2 linked regions of the Homo sapiens genome follow. The protein of the gene in region 1 purifies or fractionates together with the protein of each later gene. This does not show direct contact. Each region holds a gene or a part of one and is shown in the gene's direction. Other genes may lie near its edges. The genes, in order: DAP and MAN2C1.

What was found.
Region 2: the proteins of DAP (region 1) and MAN2C1 purify together in Homo sapiens (affinity purification with mass spectrometry; one large-scale study listed by BioGRID and IntAct). This does not show direct contact.

Annotation. Positions count from the first base shown.
Region 1 is NC_000005.10:10,758,192-10,762,626, reverse strand, and holds the start of DAP (death-associated protein 1), read left to right. Parts: upstream 1-1,392; 5' UTR 1,393-1,558; coding exon 1,559-1,613; intron 1,614-4,435. UniProt on the Homo sapiens protein: Ribosome-binding protein involved in ribosome hibernation, a process during which ribosomes are stabilized in an inactive state and preserved from proteasomal degradation.
Region 2 is NC_000015.10:75,358,376-75,362,176, reverse strand, and holds part of MAN2C1 (alpha-mannosidase 2C1), read left to right. Parts: intron 1-229; coding exon 230-322; intron 323-456; coding exon 457-573; intron 574-795; coding exon 796-891; intron 892-985; coding exon 986-1,131; intron 1,132-1,488; coding exon 1,489-1,612; intron 1,613-1,965; coding exon 1,966-2,087; intron 2,088-2,188; coding exon 2,189-2,274; intron 2,275-2,401; coding exon 2,402-2,557; intron 2,558-2,738; coding exon of another isoform or gene 2,739-2,751; coding exon 2,752-2,849; intron 2,850-2,985; coding exon of another isoform or gene 2,986-3,023; coding exon 3,024-3,118; intron 3,119-3,368; coding exon 3,369-3,473; intron 3,474-3,558; coding exon 3,559-3,715; intron 3,716-3,801. UniProt on the Homo sapiens protein: Cleaves alpha 1,2-, alpha 1,3-, and alpha 1,6-linked mannose residues on cytoplasmic free oligosaccharides generated by N-glycoprotein degradation pathways.

The DNA of each region.
Region 1 (4,435 bases):
ACAAGAGATGAGGAGCTCAGCCTCCCTGAACAGTTTTGTTGTCAAAGGGAAAAGTACAGCCAAGCGAGGGGTGGTGTTTCCTTCGCTAAAGAGATTAGGCCTGTCTGAATGCGAATCCAGCAAGGCATTGCGGAAGTTAACAGCAGTTGCAAAACACTGGGGCAGGCGGGAAGAACACGATCCAAGGCACGAGAGCCAGGGGTCAGCCACGGCAACAGGAAGATGATGGTGAAAACCAAAAGTTTCTGAGAGTGGTCTCAATTTAGGAAGTTTATTTTGCCAAGGTTAAGGACGTGCATTGACACAACCTCAGGAGGTTCTGATGACATGTGCCCAGGGTGGCCAGGAAACATCTTGGTTTTATACATTTGAGGGAGACATGAGACATCAATCAATACGTAAGATGTAGGTTGGCTCTTTAGGAGGTAAAATGTGAAGTGGAGGCGTCCGGGTCATAGGTACATTTAAAGGTTTTCTGATTGGCAACTGGTTGAGAGTTATCATCTAAAGACCTGGACTCAGTAGAAGGGAATGTCCGGGTTGCATGAAGGAGTTGTGGAGACCAAGGTGTTATCATGCAGATGAAGCCGGGAATACACTGCAAATGTTTCTTATCAGAGTCCTCTATTAGTCTTAGGGTCTCCGTGCGGATGTTTGTGAGGCCATGTTTGACTTCCGCTTCCCATCAAGGCCTGAACTAGTTTTTCAAGATAACTTAGAAGGCCACAGGCGGAGGGGAGGGTCCATCCGTTGGCTGCAGGGCTTAGAATTTTATTTTTGGTTCATAACGAGGAGGGCAGGGACAGAAGCCACCGTCTCTGCTCCCCAGCGCTGGCCCTCACTCGGAAAGCAGGCTCTCCCCTCGCATCGTCTTTTAACAAATTCCTGCTCTCTCGGCCCCCGTCGCTGCCATCTGGGCTCTCCTTTCCGCGCTTCATTAGGCGCTGCCGCGGCAGGGGCTGAGGGCCTCAGGGGACGGTCGCCTCCCTGCCGGGACGCCCCGGCCCTGGCCCGCACTGTGGGGCGCAGTCACCCAGCCGTCGCCGCGTAGCCAGGAGCCCGGCTGAGCGCGTTCGCTGCAGGAGCCATCCTCAGCTGGGCCCTACTTAACTTTCCGCAACTCCAGTCCCCGCAGCCAGTCGGGGACCCCGCCTCCCTCTCCTTCCTTCTCCCTCTCACTTCTTCACCCCTTCTCTCCCCTCCCTCCTCCGCCCCCGCCCCCGCCCCCGCCCCCGCCCCCGGCCACAGCATCCGACGTGGCGCGGCCGGCTGCGCACGCACCGTATGCTTGGCTCGCGGCCCAGCAGGGCGGGCGGGCCGCGGTGACGTCAGTGCGCATGCCGTCGGTGGGCTCGGCTGCGCCACGTCGGCGCGCGGCGGCCGCGCCCCCTTAACGGCAGTGGCACTCACCCGGCTCGCGCGGCCCCGGCGCCCCACGCGCGCGCGTCGTTCTCCCGCCCGCTCGCTCCCCGGCGCTCACACCTGAGCTCACTCGCGCACGCCCGCCCGGCCCGAGAACCGCGCCGCCGCCTCGGCCCCGCGGAAGCCCCGCCGCGTCATGTCTTCGCCTCCCGAAGGGAAACTAGAGACTAAAGCTGGACACCCGCCCGCCGGTACTGACTCTTTTCCTCTCTCTCCACGCGCGGGTGCCGGGGGCGGGCTCGAACCCGGGGGCGCCGGGCGGGGGCTCCGCGGGGAGGGCCCCGGCGAGCGCTGAGACGGGTTCCGGGCCTTGATGCCCGCCCGAGGGGCGCGGGCCGCGGAGAGGTCGGGCGCCCAGGCCCGGGAGGAGCCCGCCGGAGCTTCGGCCCCGCTTGCCGGCGGCGGCGAAGCGTTTCTTCCTGAGGACCGCGGGCGGCCGCGTACCTGTGCGATTGCGCGCAGGCTCCGGTGCCTTGGGCGAACCCAGTTGCACAACTTATAACAAAGTTTTGGCGGATAATATTTACTTAGAGGATACAGATGTCTAGAAAGAAAGTAGCAGAAGCAATGAAAAGTCAGTGGTGTTAATATCATGGTGATGATTAATTAGAGGCTGCCAGCGTTTCATACCGACTCAAGAACCAAGGAGCGGAAATAATTTTTATCATTAATCACTCAATATGACTTTCACCGCCAGTTTCTTCCACATCCAGATTTTTTTTTTCCCCCAAAGTTGCTTTTTCTGATTTTGAGCAAATCCTAAACTTCTGAGCCAAGGAAGTTAAAGCCAGGAAAGAGCGGTCTTTCTTAGAACATAGGGATCTAAGCAGCCTTCATGCTTCTGCCACCTCCTCCTCTCTCTGGGCACAGTTCCTGTTTGCACTTTGGATTCTGTCCAGACGGGTCTGTTTCCGTTTCTACTCTCCTTTCCAGTGGCAGTCGGCCCATATGGAGGGACACTGGTGAGAAGATCAAAGGCCTTGGGTCTCAGAAGCCAAGTCACTTCAATGTATGGATGCGTGAGGTTCTTTTAGGTCTTAATAGCACGCCTTAGTGTCATAAACTCAGTCTTGTAGGAACAGAAGTCTTTGAGAAACATGGCTTCTTTTGGTGGCACATTTGCGCCATTTTCTTGACAATAAAGATTCCTGGCCAGGCGCGGTGGCTCATGCCTGTAACCCCAGCAGTTTGGGAGGCCAAGGAGGGTGGATCACTTGAGGTCAGGAGTTCAAGACTAGCCTGGATAACATGGTGAAACCCCATCTCTACTAAAAGTAGAAAAATTAGCTGGGCATGGTGGCGGGCGCCTGTAATCCCAGCTATTCAGGAGGCCGAGGCAGGAGAATGGCTTGAACCCGGGAGGCAGAAGTTGTAGTGAGCCAAGATTGAGCCAAAGCACTCCAGCCTTGGCGACAAAGCGAGCGAGACTCCATCTCAAAAAAAAAAAAAAAAAAAAAAAAGATTCCCATTATCCTTCTCTGCTGTCCTCCGCTATAGGGCGGGAATTCTCTGCACCAGCACAATGAATAGGAGCCGTTCTTTAAATATGTTGCAGTCCAGAGTAGGCAATATTTTTCAGTGGTGACGGAGGCTCTCTACAACAAAACTAACTGGCACTGGGAAAGAAAAATGTCTAACTGATGCCAGAGAACTTAAGAGGCATGGGGTTTTAGAAAATCATTCCACTGTGATGGAAAATGGTTTTGGGGGAATTTGTGTTGCATTGGTTTTAAGAAAAAAAGTACTTCAAAGGGAGTTTTTTTTTTGATGGGATTTCTTTTAAGGATAACTGACTTCCATTCCACCACAGCGGGTCCCTGTCCACTGTGGGGAGGAGCGCCTTGATTTCCACCCCGGGCAGGGCTGCCTCCAGGAACTGCAGCAGCCACCTGCTCTGGCCCTCCACTCCCCAGGACATGGGTTACATTAAAGCGTATCTGTTGGAATGATACAGAACCAAAGTACAGTAATTAAATTGCATACAGAGACACACCCATAAAGAAGTTTTTTGTTTTGTTTTTTGAAACAGAGTCTCACTCTGTCACCTGGGAGTGCAGTGGCACGATCTTGGCTCACTGCAACCTCCGCCTTCTAGGTTCAAGAGATTCTCCTGCCTCAGCCTCCCGAGTAGCTGGGTTTACAGGTGCCTGCCACCACACCTGGCTGATTTTTGTATTTTTAGTAGAGACCGGATTTTGCCATGTTGGCCAGGCTGGTCTTGAACTCCTGACTTCAGGTGATCCACCCACCTCAGCCTTCCAAAGTGCCCATATGGAGATTTTTAAGGTCAGAGGTATAAACTGTACATACTCACTCCCTGGGAGAAATTCCTTGCTGGACTCTGGTTTTCTTTGAATTGCAGAGTAAACAGCTAGGCTTTGTGAATTACAGAGTAAGTAGTTTATTTACCCCTGAGGAGGGAAGAGGCAGCTTATTTGTGCTAGTGTAGCAGTGAGCTTGGGTTCTAAGTTTGAAGACATCACTTCACGCTTCACTGGGGCTCAGTTTTTCTCCTTTATGAAATTCGAGGTTTGGGCCTCGGGGCAAGTCACAGGGTGGGGCTGTGTTTGCTGCAGTGAGTCTCACGTCCCGCTTCAGCATCAGGGTACCAGCACTGTTCATCCCCCAGGTAAACTCCTCTAGTAACTTCAGGGCAACCCCTTTAGACTTACGGGGTGAGCTCTTGCGGGTGGCTGTCACCATCTGTCATCTGTCTCCAAGACCATAGTTAGAGGAGGGGCCCAATAGCAGCACCCCTCAAATGCCAGCAGCATCCCTCAAATGCCAACAGCACCCCTCAAATGCCAACAGCACCCCTCAAATGCCAACAGCACCCCTCAGATGCCAACAGCACCCCTCAAATGCGCTTTCCTAGATGTTACAGAGGACCATGTGTGAACCTTTTCTGGCAGGAAGCTCTGGTGTTCTTGTTTAGTCTGGCATTGCCAGAGAGTAGGCAGCTCTGAAGGGTAGATAGTTTTTAAAAAAAAAAAAAAAAGGCGGCCCACTACAC
Region 2 (3,801 bases), on another chromosome or scaffold:
GGGGAGGAGAGCCTCCAGCGCTGTGACAAGTTGCATGGCCTAGTCCTGGGCACCCCCTCAGGCAGATGGACAGTCAGGCCTGAAGGACAGGGGCCCTTCCTGAGTTCTGGCTGTAACTCCCATGTTTGAGCAGCCCTGGCTTCTCCTGCAGGGATTGGGTTGGCCTGAGCGCCTGCCTGCTCCCCGTCCAGCGCTGACCTGGGCTGCCTCCCACTTCCTTCACTGCCAGGATGGGAACCTGCCCAGTGGAGAGGCCATGGTGAGGCAGTTTTTGCAGGGCCAGAACTTCTTTCTGCAGGAGTTTGGGAAGATGTGCTCTGAGGTAGGCTGAGAGCTGCTACACCAGGCTGTGGGCGAGTGGGGCTGGCGCTCGACTTGGAGTGCTGAGGGGCTGAGGCTGGGGTGAGTCCGCCTGGAGCTCTGGTTCCTGCACTCCAGGATCCTCTTTCTCCACAGTTCTGGCTGCCGGACACCTTTGGCTACTCAGCACAGCTCCCCCAGATCATGCACGGCTGTGGCATCAGGCGCTTTCTCACCCAGAAATTGAGCTGGAATTTGGTGAACTCCTTCCCAGTAAGCAGGCCCCCGGGGGGTCAGGGTCAGAGTGGGCCTCAGTCCCGCCTGGCCCATTTGCCTCTCCCCCTTATTGTGGGGTCCTAGACAGACCACCAAACCCTCACTCTGCCTCTGCCAGGGTCACATAGCAGGCAGGGGCAGGACCAAGTCTGGAAGGCCTGGCTCTGCCTCAGCCCTGACTCTGGCCTCTCTGCCCTGCTTCTGTTTCCCTGCTGGTAGCACCATACATTTTTCTGGGAGGGCCTGGATGGCTCCCGTGTACTGGTCCACTTCCCACCTGGCGACTCCTATGGGATGCAGGGCAGCGTGGAGGAGGTGAGGGGTCACCTAGGGTGGTGGGGTAGGGGCAGGCTGGAGAGGGCTGGCTTGTTCCAGGCTGATCCATGCTGGCCTGCCCTCACCTGTCTAGGTGCTGAAGACCGTGGCCAACAACCGGGACAAGGGGCGGGCCAACCACAGTGCCTTCCTCTTTGGCTTTGGGGATGGGGGTGGTGGCCCCACCCAGACCATGCTGGACCGCCTGAAGCGCCTGAGCAATACGGATGGGCTGCCCAGGTCAGGCCAGGCCTTGGCTCTCCTTTAGCCCCACCCTGGGCCCTTGCCATGAGCCCTGCCTTCCCTCAGACATTGGGCCCAACCCCTCCTCTGGACCTTGTCCTGTCCCAATCCTAGACCACGGGTTCCTCCAAACTTCCACCCTGGGGGTGGGTGGGGGAGAAGCTGAAGCTGGTAAGGGCTCCAGCCCATCAGAGAGAGAGGCTCTCCTAGGGCGTCCAGGGCTGGCCATCTGTGAACGGGGAGCTTTCTGGAGTGGCTCCTCTCTGTAGGAGCTGGATCCTTTGCTTTGGTGTGGAAGAAGGGTGAGCCATGTGGTCTCCAAGGCTGGGAGACCTAGGCTTGTGGTCTCCTCAGGGTGCAGCTATCTTCTCCAAGACAGCTCTTCTCAGCACTGGAGAGTGACTCAGAGCAGCTGTGCACGTGGGTTGGGGAGCTCTTCTTGGAGCTGCACAATGGCACATACACCACCCATGCCCAGGTCAGGGGGAGGTTGCAGGGCTGTGCAGGGAGGGTGTGCCCTTGATCTGCAGAGGGTCAGAGAAGGCAGCAGGGGACAGAGCCCAGGCCAGATCTAGGGGAAGAGAAGTTTGGAGGAGAGAAGTTCAAGACCTGGGTTGGTCAAGAAAGCTTGAAGGAGGCAGAAACCCCTGAAGAAAGAAGGGTTTGGGCTGCGGGGAGAAGAGGGAAGGCATTTAAGGCAGGTCACCCGCCAGAGGCCTTCTCCACGAGGCCCTTGGTGAGTCCTCAGGGATTCTGAGCAAGGGAGGGCTTTGGAAGGTGTCCTGGGACAGCTAAGCAGGCTCCAGACTAATCTTCCCATCCTGGGCTCAGATCAAGAAGGGGAACCGGGAATGTGAGCGGATCCTGCACGACGTGGAGCTGCTCAGTAGCCTGGCCCTGGCCCGCAGTGCCCAGTTCCTATACCCAGCAGCCCAGCTGCAGCACCTCTGGAGGTCAGCCCAGTTCTGTCCCTGCCATCCACCTGACTGCTCACTGCAGTTACCTCTGTGCCTGCCCCTCCCAGCCTTCCCATCCCTGCCCTTGGCCCCTGCAGGCTCCTTCTTCTGAACCAGTTCCATGATGTGGTGACTGGAAGCTGCATCCAGATGGTGGCAGAGGAAGCCATGTGCCATTATGAAGGTTAGGCTCACAATAGTCCTGCCTGCTCTCTCCAACCCCAGGGCTGAGCCCAGAGTGTCCCCTGTGGGATACCCATGGGCACATTCCAGACCTGTTGCCCACCTATGACCAGCCAGTCTTTCCTCAGACATCCGTTCCCATGGCAATACACTGCTCAGCGCTGCAGCCGCAGCCCTGTGTGCTGGGGAGCCAGGTCCTGAGGGCCTCCTCATCGTCAACACACTGCCCTGGAAGCGGATCGAAGTGATGGCCCTGCCCAAACCGGGCGGGGCCCACAGCCTAGGTACGAGCTGAGGGGAAGGGTTGCTACTGCAGCAGGAAGGATGGAGGCCAGACAGATCAGGCCTGGGATACCCCGAGGGATCTGGGTGCCCCTGACTGGAGAGTAGTAGCACATCTTCCACCAACCCATCCCCACCTGCGCAAGCTTCCTGAAAGGTCAGGAAGGCTGCACTGATGCCCAGGCCTCACCCCCAGCCCTGGTGACAGTGCCCAGCATGGGCTATGCTCCTGTTCCTCCCCCCACCTCACTGCAGCCCCTGCTGCCCCAGCAGCCTGTGTTCGTAGTGCAAGAGGTGAGTCCTGCATGCCCTGGGGGGCAGGAACTGTGCTGGGATACTTTCTTACAACTGAGGGTCCTGAGCTCCCCTGTCTGGAGCAAGTGGTGAGGCGGGGCTGGGGTTGGGGTGGGAAGACTTTTGGTGTGGGAAGCCCCTACAGACTCAGCCTCAAGGCCTCCTCCCACAAAGACTGATGGCTCCGTGACTCTGGACAATGGCATCATCCGAGTGAAGCTGGACCCAACTGGTCGCCTGACGTCCTTGGTCCTGGTGGCCTCTGGCAGGTGCCAAATCCTCATTGCCCTTTCCCAGTGCCTGGCAAGTAGACCCCAGGCCATTTCCTCTCTCCCCTTGCCACAACACTGCCCACAGCAGCCCACCAGTGGCTCTGGGCTGGAACCCACACATGGAGCAGGGCAGGCTGGGCAGTAGTCCCCTGTCCACTGGGTCTACTCACTCCACCCTACCCCACCAAGAGCAGCTGGAGACAGCGAGGTCAGTTGGTTGTACAGCACCAATCCCATGTCCTTCCAGGGAGGCCATTGCTGAGGGCGCCGTGGGGAACCAGTTTGTGCTATTTGATGATGTCCCCTTGTACTGGGATGCATGGGACGTCATGGACTACCACCTGGAGACACGGTATAGGCTGGGCAGCATGTGGGGATGGTGGAGGTGGTGGGAACACAGGCTGCTCTGGATCAGTATGTCCACCCCTGTCCCATAGGAAGCCTGTGCTGGGCCAGGCAGGGACCCTGGCAGTGGGCACCGAGGGCGGCCTGCGGGGCAGCGCCTGGTTCTTGCTACAGATCAGCCCCAACAGTCGGCTTAGCCAGGAGGTTGTGCTGGACGTTGGCTGCCCCTATGTCCGCTTCCACACCGAGGTAGTCGGGGGGTAGGGGGTGGCTGTTTTCCCCAAGTGTGCTTGGTAAGGAGGGGCCAGCCCCAGGCCTTGGTGTGTCTCTTCCTT